4 separate regions of the Homo sapiens genome follow, and regions 2, 3 and 4 are each linked to region 1. The links come from fine-mapping of genetic effects on gene expression. A gene starts in region 1. Each other region holds a variant in brackets. All regions are shown on one strand. Distances are from middle to middle. Region 1 holds the start of CYP4V2 (cytochrome P450 family 4 subfamily V member 2). Region 2 overlaps FAM149A (family with sequence similarity 149 member A). Region 3 holds the start of LOC124900873 (a long non-coding RNA gene). Region 4 overlaps F11-AS1 (F11 antisense RNA 1).

Region 1 (2,686 bases):
TGTTACCCGCCTGGTTTTATCCACAGAGGTTAGCAGAGACTGATACAGACAAACCCTTTTTCTTTCTAATTTTAGATTCAAGAGCACATGTGCAGGTTTGTTAAATTTGCCTGACGCTGAGGTTTGAGTTTCTATTGATCCCCTCACCTGAATAGGGAACACAGTACCCAATACACAGTTTTTCAACCATTACTCCCCTTCCTTCCTCCCCCTATTTTAGAATCCCCAGTATGTAGACAAATTGTTTACTTTTATAGCTGTAATTAACCTTATTATAGCTCAGCCTCAACCCTTTAGAGAGGAGGAAACTAAAGCCCATGAGACTTGCTTAAAGATACTAAGTGAACATATTTATTTTTTAAAGTGTTAAAGTGATTAAACAATGTAGACGTGAATGAAATAAAAAGCGTAAGTTCCCCATCTTCATTCCCACTCCATAGAGCTGATCAGTATTTTTACTTGCAGACATTAGTGGAGCCGTAGAGAAAGAAACCTTTTCTCCAAAAGAAGGCATTACTTTACACACTCCGTTCTGCAACTTGTTTTGTTCACTTGCTATTTCACGTCAGCCCATGCAGATGACTTAAAACAAATTCAAATGGAGAAAAGCCTTAGGCATGTTTTTCTCTGCACTAAAGAGGCCCTGCAGGTGGCTGTGGCCAACTTATGCAGTGGCTTCGAGTGAACGAACGTAATTAGTAATTAAGCAAAGCGGGCATCCAGGACATTCAGTTTCATCTTCCTGGCACTTTAGTGTTTAGGAAGGGCCTGGCCTCTCGGGGAGCGACACTCCTCGCCCGGCCACTTTGTAAGAAGCATCGAGCGTGGAAAAGGGGCTGGGGTCAGCACTGGGGCCCTCTGCCGGGAAGAGAGACTGGCGGCCAGCACACGCGTCTCCCCAGGCTGAAATGGGGCACCCTCTCGCGGCCCTTCCCTCCCTTCCCGGGCTGGGTGGCAGGTCTTGGCTCTTCTGCGAGTACCCCGCGGCTGCGGTCTCCCGGCACCCGCTGAGCAGCCTCGCCCGCCTTCCTCTCCCACCCGCCCCTGCGTGCTCTCCGGGGCTCCGGCTTCCTCGGTCTGGTGCCTGGTGCGTATTTTGGAAAATACCTGGCTCATAACCACCTCATTGAGCTCCCAGTGTCCCAGTGGGCCAGCGGACACACACGGGTAGCTGACTTCCCTAACGTGTCCCCAAAGCCTCCCTGGATTACAGCGCCCGCTGCTCCATGTGACCCCGCGGGAGCCAGGACGCGCCCCGCCTCCCGGGGCTGCAAGTTGCGCAGGGAGCGAGCGATGCGCAGCAGAGCTGGGCTCCGAGCCGGATGCGCCTTCCTTTCCTCTCCAGAGCAGGCTGCCCGCCCGCGGAATCCCGCACGTAGAGCAACCTCGCAGCACCCTCAGAACAGCCCCGCTGGGGCGCGCCGGGCTGCCGCGGTGACCTTTCCGACGCCCCTGACCCCGCATCCGGAGGCGGCCGGAAGTGTCGCCGGCCTCCTCCCGGCGCAGCCTCCGGGCCTCCAGTGCAATCACTACGCCCTGGGGCCCGGAAACCGTTTTCCGGTCTTTCGCTTTCGGCTGGGGCGTGGAGGCCGCGGTGCTGCGTAGGCCGGGCCGGGCGCAGGAACAGCCCCGTGGCGCCCTCTCTGGCCGCCGCCCGGGCGGGAAACGTCGTTCCGGGGACCGGGCGACCCCGCAGCGGGGAGCGCGCCAGGTCCGCGCGGGGAAGTGGGCGGTGTGCGGCCGGCACCGCCTCGCACCACGCCCCCGCGGGCCCGCACTTTCCCGGAGTGCACCCCGCGGCCGCCAGCCGGGGCGATGGCGGGGCTCTGGCTGGGGCTCGTGTGGCAGAAGCTGCTGCTGTGGGGCGCGGCGAGTGCCCTTTCCCTGGCCGGCGCCAGTCTGGTCCTGAGCCTGCTGCAGAGGGTGGCGAGCTACGCGCGGAAATGGCAGCAGATGCGGCCCATCCCCACGGTGGCCCGCGCCTACCCACTGGTGGGCCACGCGCTGCTGATGAAGCCGGACGGGCGAGGTAAGGGCCGGCGCTCCTCCTGGAGCGCAACGGGGTCCGCAGCCCCGTTCCCACCCTCCGATCAGCCAGGAACCCGCTGCTTGTGGCGCTGGCCGCAGGAGAGAGGAGCCTGTCACCCTGTGGAGAATGCACTCCCAGTTCTAGTCGTTGCCCCTTGGCACCCGCCGACACTGCTAGTGCCCCATCCCAAAGTGAGCATTTTCTTTGTGTGTAGCACAGGATGCGGTATTTCCAAACCCCTGCCCTCGGTCTTTTCCCACCTCACCGCTGCTCAGCTCTCAAAGCCCTGCCGTTTCCTCCTGCCTTGGCTTGGGAAGCCTTAGGAACAGAAGCTCCCTGGGAGCACAGAGCGGTTTTAAACTGGCCAACACCTTAACGCCCAGAGCCGCCCTCCTCTCGCTGCCACTTTGGAAAATAAGAGACTAGAGATTCACTGGACGCTTCCTCCCGGCATCACAAGACTTGACTGCTGCTTCAGTTCCCGCTTGACCTTCATACTTTAGCCCTTTAAAGGATGTTACATAATAACAATTAAGAGACGGCAGGGCCTTCAGGCAGACTTCTTTGGAGGGTGTCAAACGCCTTGTTTATTAAAGAGTGAATTTTTTAATTAAAATCATGTTTTAAAACAGAGATGGACATTTTATTGATGGAAAA
Region 2 (2,686 bases), 27 kb before region 1:
CATTTAATCCCGTGCTTCAGATGTGCCTGAGCACGTCTGGAAGAGCAGAAACAGACCCTTTAGTACCAACCACAAAACAGTTACTATCGTGTATTTGGTAGGGAGAGATGGGGAAAGGGGAATGTAGTCCTGAAATTCTTAATCTTGTGGGCTTGACTGTTTGATTACTGACAGGGAAAACCTTAGCCCTCTGCCTGTGGATGATTCTTCATTGAAACAGAAACAGAAATGATGGGTCTTTTCATTCATTCAACCCGTGCTTAGGAGTATGTTCTAGGTGCCAGACTGTTCTAGGCAGTGCTCAACTAAGCACAGACAGGTGCGTTCCCTGTTATCACAGCACTCGCAGCTGAGTAGCTCACAGGATTTCCTTCCCAGGAATGAGAAGGAGGACAAAGCATCGGGTGGAGGGGCAGGTGCTCTCTCCTCCGCACCGCACAGACTGGGACGGGCCTCAGACACTCATGGATTATCACCTTCTGCAAAGAAAACACCAGTGCCCTGGAGGCTGCCTTCTCTTGCTTCAGATTCACAGAGACTAAAAACTCCCAACATCTATAGTGACGAAGTTCTTCGGGGAACAAAACTGTGAGTCTCATTTCTTTCATAGTAAACTAAAGGCCACGGAGGACCTAGATGCTTCTCAGTTAGGGTTTATGGATCATCCTGGACAAAGCATCCCTACCTAGTTTTACATAGATGCTTTTCTAATGAGTTCATTGAGCATTTAACATTCCGCTTGCTCCAGTGGTCTACTTAGCTGTATCCTAGGACACAAGGTCAGGCAATGTCCCTGTCACACAGGCGGAATGAGCCTCTGATGCTGGGGGACCTTGGGTGGATTTCAGTGGCCTCATCTGTGAAACAAATAATTAGCTAATGCCTTTCAATTACATAATTAATACTTTTCAAGGGGAGGTTTAAATAAAATAATGTATATAAAATGCTATAAAAATAAAAGGACTGTGTCCCTATCGGATTATCTTTAAGGATGCATTTTTCTCTATGTGGGAGTTTCAGCAAAGCTGTTGATTGCAGGATTCACATCCCGTCATGGCCTCGTTAGAAAGGTGCCTGTCTCTTGCCCTCCAGCTAACTTACCAGTATCGGCCAATACTTACATTGATAATAATAGCTAATGTTTATTGATCACTTTCTTTGTTATCAGCGCCAGGTAAATGAATTACATTTATGATCTTATTTATTCCCCACCACAAAACTTTATATTG[T/A]TGGGACTCATACTATCCCAAATCTGAGATGAGGGAACAGGCTAAGCCTGCCGGAGATCATCCCCGCCAGGAAGAGGCCCAGCCGGACACACCCACAAGTGCTCTCAGGCTTTAGAGACCACCCACTGGACCCCCGGCCTGCAGGGGAGCTGTTATCAGGAGCCGAGCTCAGGAGCGGGCGGCTGCCAACGCTTACCTGGCACCCAGACTTTTTCCAGATGCAGTCATAACCCCCCTTTCAGCTTTTTAATTGGTGACTGTTTCTTTCACAGTTTGGGACTGATGTTTCCAGCTGTGTTGGGTCTGCTGTGCTGATTCCTTCGAGATCCCTCTCCCTCCTCCGCCTCGCTTCCCCCCATGCCAGTCAGCAGCACACGGTGCCAGTCAGCAACACATGGCAGGCTTTCTCCTCCTGCCCCAGCCTACCTGGGCCCCCTGTCACACCTTCATCAAATAGAAACCCATTTATGTTTCCTACTGAGATACATTCAGATGCCACTAACTGTACAAATCCCTCTGTGTTCTGACCCCTCCCTCCCTGTGGGCTGCTGATTTTTCAGCTTTCTTTTTATTATTGCCACCCTGAGGAGCCCTTTTCGACCATTCTTCCCAATTGCTCTCCCTACACATGGAATTGTAGTCCCACAGACAGCCTGTTTGTCTGTGTGCATAGCTGTGCTCTACACATACGAGGGAAGCTGTGGCTTCAGAGGGGCCAGTGCCCACCCCCTTTGGTGATGCTACCTCACCTGTGTCCCCCGGCTTCTCACCCGCCTGGATTCTCACCTGCCAGCCTCACTTTCCCTCTGACCCCCCCACACACCAGCTCTGCGTCTTCTCACCTCCATCCTCTGTCTTTCACTTGTATTGAGATAACATTTTCCCATAGTTATCAGAGTGCTATAAGTTCCCTGGGGAGCATCCGGATAATACCACACATAGCAGAAATCAAAGACCTCCTGTGTGCCCCTCACGCAGAAACATTGAAATCACAGCTCTTGGCAGATTTCCTGTCACTTGCCAGTTATCCATGTACCTGGGTGCTCAGTGACATGATGATGTGTTGCAGGCCGACTGGCGTGGACCACATGGCTTCCCCACTGGTTCAAACGTCACGGAGCAGGTTCCCCCCGCTAGTCACGGAGACCAGGGGGCAGAATACAGCAGTTCCTGGATGCCGCCTTGTTTCTGTAAGACAGATTTCATTCTATTTCAGTGGACCATTTAGGTTCTGTATTGGAAAACAAACAAAAACAACCTTGGCACTTCCAAGTGAAATTAGTAACATGAGATCTGAGTAGCTGTATTCAAATGCCTTCATAATCTGTTTCCAGAAAGTAAATGAATGGCTTATGAGAATTTACAGGGAGTGAGAGGCTTAATTCACCGTTTTGTGAAATAAAAGCATGTCTTGAACTAAATCAGAAATTCCAGGTGTCAAGGAAATCTCTGATAGG
Region 3 (2,686 bases), 47 kb after region 1:
ATGTACATAATAAAAATTTTAAATCCCTTAGTTAATATAGCAGTTGCCAAAACTGGGCTATTATCATTCTAAACTACCAACCCAAATGGTAGTGGGTATCTAATCTACCTCTAGAAAGAAAATGGACTGTATTTGCTCTATGTATTTTTCTTGTACAGCTTGCCATCGAGACATTTATAAAGGAGTTGATATGAGAGGAGTCAATTTTAATGTGTCTAAGGTTAGCAGTGTTGAAGAATGCCAAAAAAGGTGCACCAGTAACATTCGCTGCCAGTTTTTTTCATATGCCACGCAAACATTTCACAAGGCAGAGTACCGGTGAGTACAATTCAAGGTGTGTGTTCTTTGTATTGGTGCCTCCAGGATTTCACTGTATTCTTCTTAACCTCTTTTGTTCCCAAACTAAAAACCAAACAGGGCTTTTATTCTAACCACTTTCCTCATTTACTTACTCTATTTTATTTTTTTATCTTTTATTTATTTATTTATTTATTGAGATGGAGTCGCGCTCTGTCGCCCAGGCTAGAGTGCAGTGGCGTAATCTCGACTCACTACAACCTCCGCTTCCCGGGTTCAAGCGATTCTCCTGCCTCAGCCTCCCGAGTAGCTGGGATTACAGGCGTCCGCCACCATGCCTGGCTAATTTTTGTATTTTTAGTAGAGTCGGGGTTTTACTATGTTGGTCAGGCTGGTCTCGAACTCCTGATCTTGTGATCCACCCACCTCAGCCTCCCAAAGCGCTGGGATTACAGGCATGAGCCACTGCGCCTCGCCCTTCATTTTTTAATTAAATAATTCATTTAATTTCATTTGTTTCTCTACTCTTTTCCCCTGGCATGTAATTGTACCGCATCTTCAAAGCCTGACATCCTCTTCCCCTACTTCTCCAAAGCTGATTCTTGCAGGTCTTTCCTCAAATACCGTCCCCTCCAAAAGCCCATTTCTGAGCATTCTCTTTTAAGTCACACTCAGCTCTGTTTATTTCATTCATAGAGCTAATCACAATTTGATATTAACTTGTGATTTTTTTCCTTATTTTTAAATCTTATTTTTATTTGCATAGATGTATGGGGTACAAGTGTAATTTTGTTACTTTGATGTATTTTACAGTGGTAAAGTCTGGGCTTTTGGTATATCCATCACTGGAGTCATGTACATTGTACCCACTAAGCTATTTTTCAACGCCCGCCCCCTTCCCACCTCTCTGTCACCTTCCCAGTCTCTACTGTCTATCGCTCCATGCTCTACTCAATTTTGGTGTCATTTTTTCCTGAAGCAAAATTTTGGTGTCATTTTTTCTGAAGTCATTTTCTGAAGTCTGTGTCATTTTTCGCTTTCCTGAAGCGAATTTTGGTGTCATTTTTCCTGAAGTTCCGTTTGCCCCACACATAGGCCTTGCTTATAGAATGAGGGTTTAGTGTCACGGAGTCTCCTGCCTCATTCTCACCCTAACTTTTCCTTTACCCCTTTGCGAGGGGAAGGATGTCCATTAGGTTAATAATGCA[G/C]ACCCCTAACCCACTCATTATCAGGGTCATTGTTTTTCCACTGTGCATTTTAATACTAACTGTTACCTGCACTGCTCCCTGCCCCTCAAAGTGCAGAAAGCAAAGTAACCTCTTTTCTTCCCATTCAGGAACAATTGCCTATTAAAGTACAGTCCCGGAGGAACACCTACCGCTATAAAGGTGCTGAGTAACGTGGAATCTGGATTCTCACTGAAGCCCTGTGCCCTTTCAGAAATTGGTAATTGTAGGACTACTTCACTTTGTGATTGTGGTAGGTGGAATAGGAGCCCCCAGAGACGTCCCTGTGCTGAGCCCTGGGACCTGTGCGTGTGTTCCCATAGCTGGCAAAAGCGTTTCTGTCAATGGCATGCAGTTACGGGCTTCGAGATGGGGAGTTTACTCTGGATTTTCTGAATGGGCCCAATGTACTCACAGGGTTGAGTGCTCACAAGGCTCATAAGAAAAAGAGAGAGGCGGAAGGCTCAGAGCCAGAGAGAGAGGTTTGAAGGTATTACACTGCTGGCTTTGAAGATGAAGGTCCGTGAGCCAAGGAATGCAGGCGGCCTCTAGAAGTTGAAAAGGGCGAGGAAAGAGTTTCCCTGTGGAGCGTCCTGGAGGAAGAAGCCCTGCTGATGTCTTGATTTTAGCCCAGTAAGACCCAATCTCTAGAACAGTAAGATAATTAATTTGTGTTGTTTTTAACCACTAAGTTTGTGGTTATGCCCCTAGAGCAGCAGTTATAGGAAACTAGTACAGTGATACTGTTAGAGTTATAGGACAGTGATATAGGACAGTGATACTGTTATAGTTATAGGAAACTAGTACAGTGATACTGTTAGAGTTATAGGACAGTGATATAGGACAGTGATATTGTTATAGTTATAGGAAACTAGTACAGTGATACTGTTAGAGTTATAGGTACAGTGATATTGTTATAGTTATAGGAAACTAGTACAGTGATACTGTTACAGGTACAGTGATATAGGACAGTGATACTGTTATAGGAAACTAGTACAGTGATACTGTTAGAGTTATAGGTACAGTGACATAGGACAGTGATACTGTTATAGTTATAGGAAACTAGTACAGTGATACTGTTAGAGTTATAGGTAGAGTGATATAGGACAGTGATACTGTTATAGTTATAGAAAACTAGTACAGTGATACTGTTATAGTTATAG
Region 4 (2,686 bases), 110 kb after region 1:
CTTTTAAAGTCACCCTAAGCATACCGGTTGCTACACAGGCAGGATTCAAAAATGCAAATATCAAAAATACTCAAAACTCTCAGAAACAAACCAGTGAAATTCATTGTCCTACTCATTATCCAATTTATCCAACAGTAATCATTACGATTGATTTCCAGGCCTGTAACTGCCTATTTTCATGGCCTGTAGAGAGGGGAGTATAGGGTGCAGGCAGGAGTGTCTGAAGGCATGGAAGTCTCTGCCTGGGCATTAACAAAATGAGTGGAAAAAGCAGACAATTGCATCTGCGGGCATTGATATCTCTTATCTGCACGTTAGACTTAGTTTTATGAGTAACTAAATTGAGTTGAGACTCTTAACTGATGTTCAGATTCACTGCCAGCACTCCCCACACATACCAGGAAACACCCTGTGTTCCAGTGGGCAGACCCATGCAAGCCCACCCCCAAAGCCTGGGGGTGCAGAGAGGCCGAGGAAAGAGGCTGACAAATCCAGACTCTCAGAAAGGAGCGTTGAATAGGGACTTATCCCACAGCTGCCCTCCAGAAAGCTTGCTTGCTTTTTCTTTCTTTCTTTTCTTTCTTTCTTTCTTTCTTTCTTTCTTTCTTTCTTTCTTTCTTTCTTTCTTTCTTTCTTTCTTTCTTTCTTTCTTTCTTTCTTTCATCTTTCTTTCTTTCTTTCTTCCTATCTTTCTTTTCTTTCTTTTTTGATATGGAGTCTCGCTCTGTCACCAGGCTAGACTGCAGTGACGCGATCTCAGCTCACTGCAACCTCCGCCTCCCGGGTTCAAGTGATTTGCACCAGCCTCCCGAGTAGCTGAGGCTATAGGCGCCCACCACCACACCCAGGTAATTCTTGTATTTTTAGTAGAGACGGGGTTTCACCATGTTGACCAGGATGGTCTCAATCTTTTGACCTCGTGATCCACCTACCTCGGCCTCCCAAAGTGCTAGGACTACAGGCATGAGCCACCGCACCTGGCCCAGAAAACGTTCTTTCTATAGCAAGCTTTTATAAGACTGATGCACCAGACCCTCTTGCAAAACTGCTGACCAGTGGGGAGGTTGAATAAGCATCTTTATAGGGGTCATCTATGCCCCAGGCACTGTTTGTTTATAGGGGTCGTCTATGCCCCAGGCATTGTTTGTTTGAAGGGGTTGTCTATGTCACAGGCATTGTTTCTGAGGAACTAATTGGTGAGCAGGGGTCCGACAGTCACTTCAAGATGGCCTTACTCTTGCCGTGCACTGATCTCGCCACTCAGAAAATGCTCAAAGGCCACTTTTTGGTGCACACAGGAAAGGTCTCTTCTATTCAGCTGAATCAAAACATTTGAAATTGGCTGTGTTTGTTTTCAGATCTGTTCAGGTCAATTTAACAATTATTGTAAAGAAGTAA[C/T]TTACTTATAATTACATAAGCCCCAACCTGAAAGAATTCCCAATAACCAAAACTGGAATAACTTGAGTGACAGAATGAATAATCTAGCATTGGATTACATCTTAAAGTAAAAAATAAATATCCATGAGTTCATACTGATACAAAATGATTGAATGAACAAAATAATGAGAGAGAAGAGAGAAATCCGCTGTACAGGATTCCGGGTAAGTTACACCATTTCTCCTCTCTCAAGGATGTGGAGCTTAACCCTCTATCCCTTGCTTAGGGAGTAGAGCATGGATAGGAGTGAAAAGGTAATTTACAGAGGAGAAACAGGCTAGTTGATGAGGTAACATCATCAGTGGTAAGTCATCTTGATAGTGTGCACTGTTTAACAAGCAGATTTATTGATACATAATTCATATATACCCAAACTTCCATTTAAAATGACGATTCGGTGATTTTTAGTATATTCTCAGAGTAGTGTGATCATTAATCTAATTTTCTATCATCTTCATCACTCCCCCAAAGAAACCTCATACCTATGTGTAGATTTGCCTCTTCTGAACATTTTACATAAATGCAATCATACAACATGGGGTGTTTTGTGACCTGTTTCTTTCACTTTCACCTTGTTTTCAAGGAGGAACCATGTTCTAAAGCCTGTACTTCATTCCTTTTTATTGCCATATAATAAAAAGGAATTGCCCTTGTATAATTATACACATTTTATTTACCCATTCATCGATGGAAATGTGGGTTTTCTCACTTTTTGGCCATCATGAATAATGCTGCTATAAATATTCATGTATGAGTTTTTGTGTAGACACGTTTATCTTTCTGTTGAGTGTGTAGTACCCAGGAGCAGAATTTCTGGGTCATATGGGAACACTATGTTTCATATTTTGAAGAATGATGTTTTTGAAAGCAGCTACACCATTTTACATTCCCACCAGCAATGTCTGAAGCCTCCAATGTCACCACATCCTGGCTAACATCGATGATTCCGTCTTTTTGATTCTAAGCCCACCTTAGTGGGTGTGAAGTGGTATCTTATTGTGGTTTTGATTTGCATTTCCCCAAGGATTAATGATGTTGAGAACATCTTTATGTGTTTATCAGCCATTAGTACATCTTCTTTGGAGAAATATTTATTTACTTATTTTCTCCATTTTTAATTGGGGTATTTTCTTTTTATTACAAAGTTGTGAGTTCTTTACATATTCTGGATACTAGTCCTTGTTAGATACATGATTTGCAAATATTTTATGCCATACTATGGGTTATCTTTTCACTTTCTTGATGGTAT

What was found. PIP is the estimated chance that this variant, and not a neighbour inherited with it, causes the effect. A credible set is the group of variants that fine-mapping cannot tell apart.
Region 2: its variant is the best candidate, but not a certain one, in a credible set for the expression of CYP4V2 in whole blood (INTERVAL, PIP 0.79).
Region 3: its variant is the best candidate, but not a certain one, in a credible set for the expression of CYP4V2 in pancreas (GTEx, PIP 0.54).
Region 4: its variant is the best candidate, but not a certain one, in a credible set for the expression of CYP4V2 in esophagus mucosa (GTEx, PIP 0.83).

The regions. Positions count from the first base shown.
Region 1 is chr4:186,190,009-186,192,694 of GRCh38, forward strand. CYP4V2 (cytochrome P450 family 4 subfamily V member 2) reads left to right here and starts at 1,559. Exons shown (of 11, transcript NM_207352.4): 1 at 1,559-2,029. The coding sequence starts at 1,816. FLJ38576 (a long non-coding RNA gene) reads right to left here and starts at 1,482. Exons shown (of 1, transcript NR_046264.1): 1 at 1-1,482. RefSeq lists a silencer at 1,356-1,885.
Region 2 is chr4:186,163,046-186,165,731 of GRCh38, forward strand. It overlaps FAM149A (family with sequence similarity 149 member A), which reads left to right. Exons shown (of 14, transcript NM_001395294.1): 10 at 379-588; 11 at 2,299-2,419. Among named protein-coding and RNA genes, the nearest start is that of FLJ38576, 27 kb to the right of the region's middle. The variant T/A (reference allele first, on the strand shown) is at 1,230.
Region 3 is chr4:186,236,623-186,239,308 of GRCh38, forward strand. It overlaps KLKB1 (kallikrein B1), which reads left to right. Exons shown (of 15, transcript NM_000892.5): 5 at 159-318; 6 at 1,634-1,743. LOC124900873 (a long non-coding RNA gene) reads left to right here and starts at 1,783. Exons shown (of 2, transcript XR_007058497.1): 1 at 1,783-2,423; 2 at 2,543-2,686. The variant G/C (reference allele first, on the strand shown) is at 1,506.
Region 4 is chr4:186,299,164-186,301,849 of GRCh38, forward strand. The region is part of intron 1 of F11-AS1 (F11 antisense RNA 1); the gene reads right to left. Among named protein-coding and RNA genes, the nearest start is that of F11, 34 kb to the left of the region's middle. The variant C/T (reference allele first, on the strand shown) is at 1,399.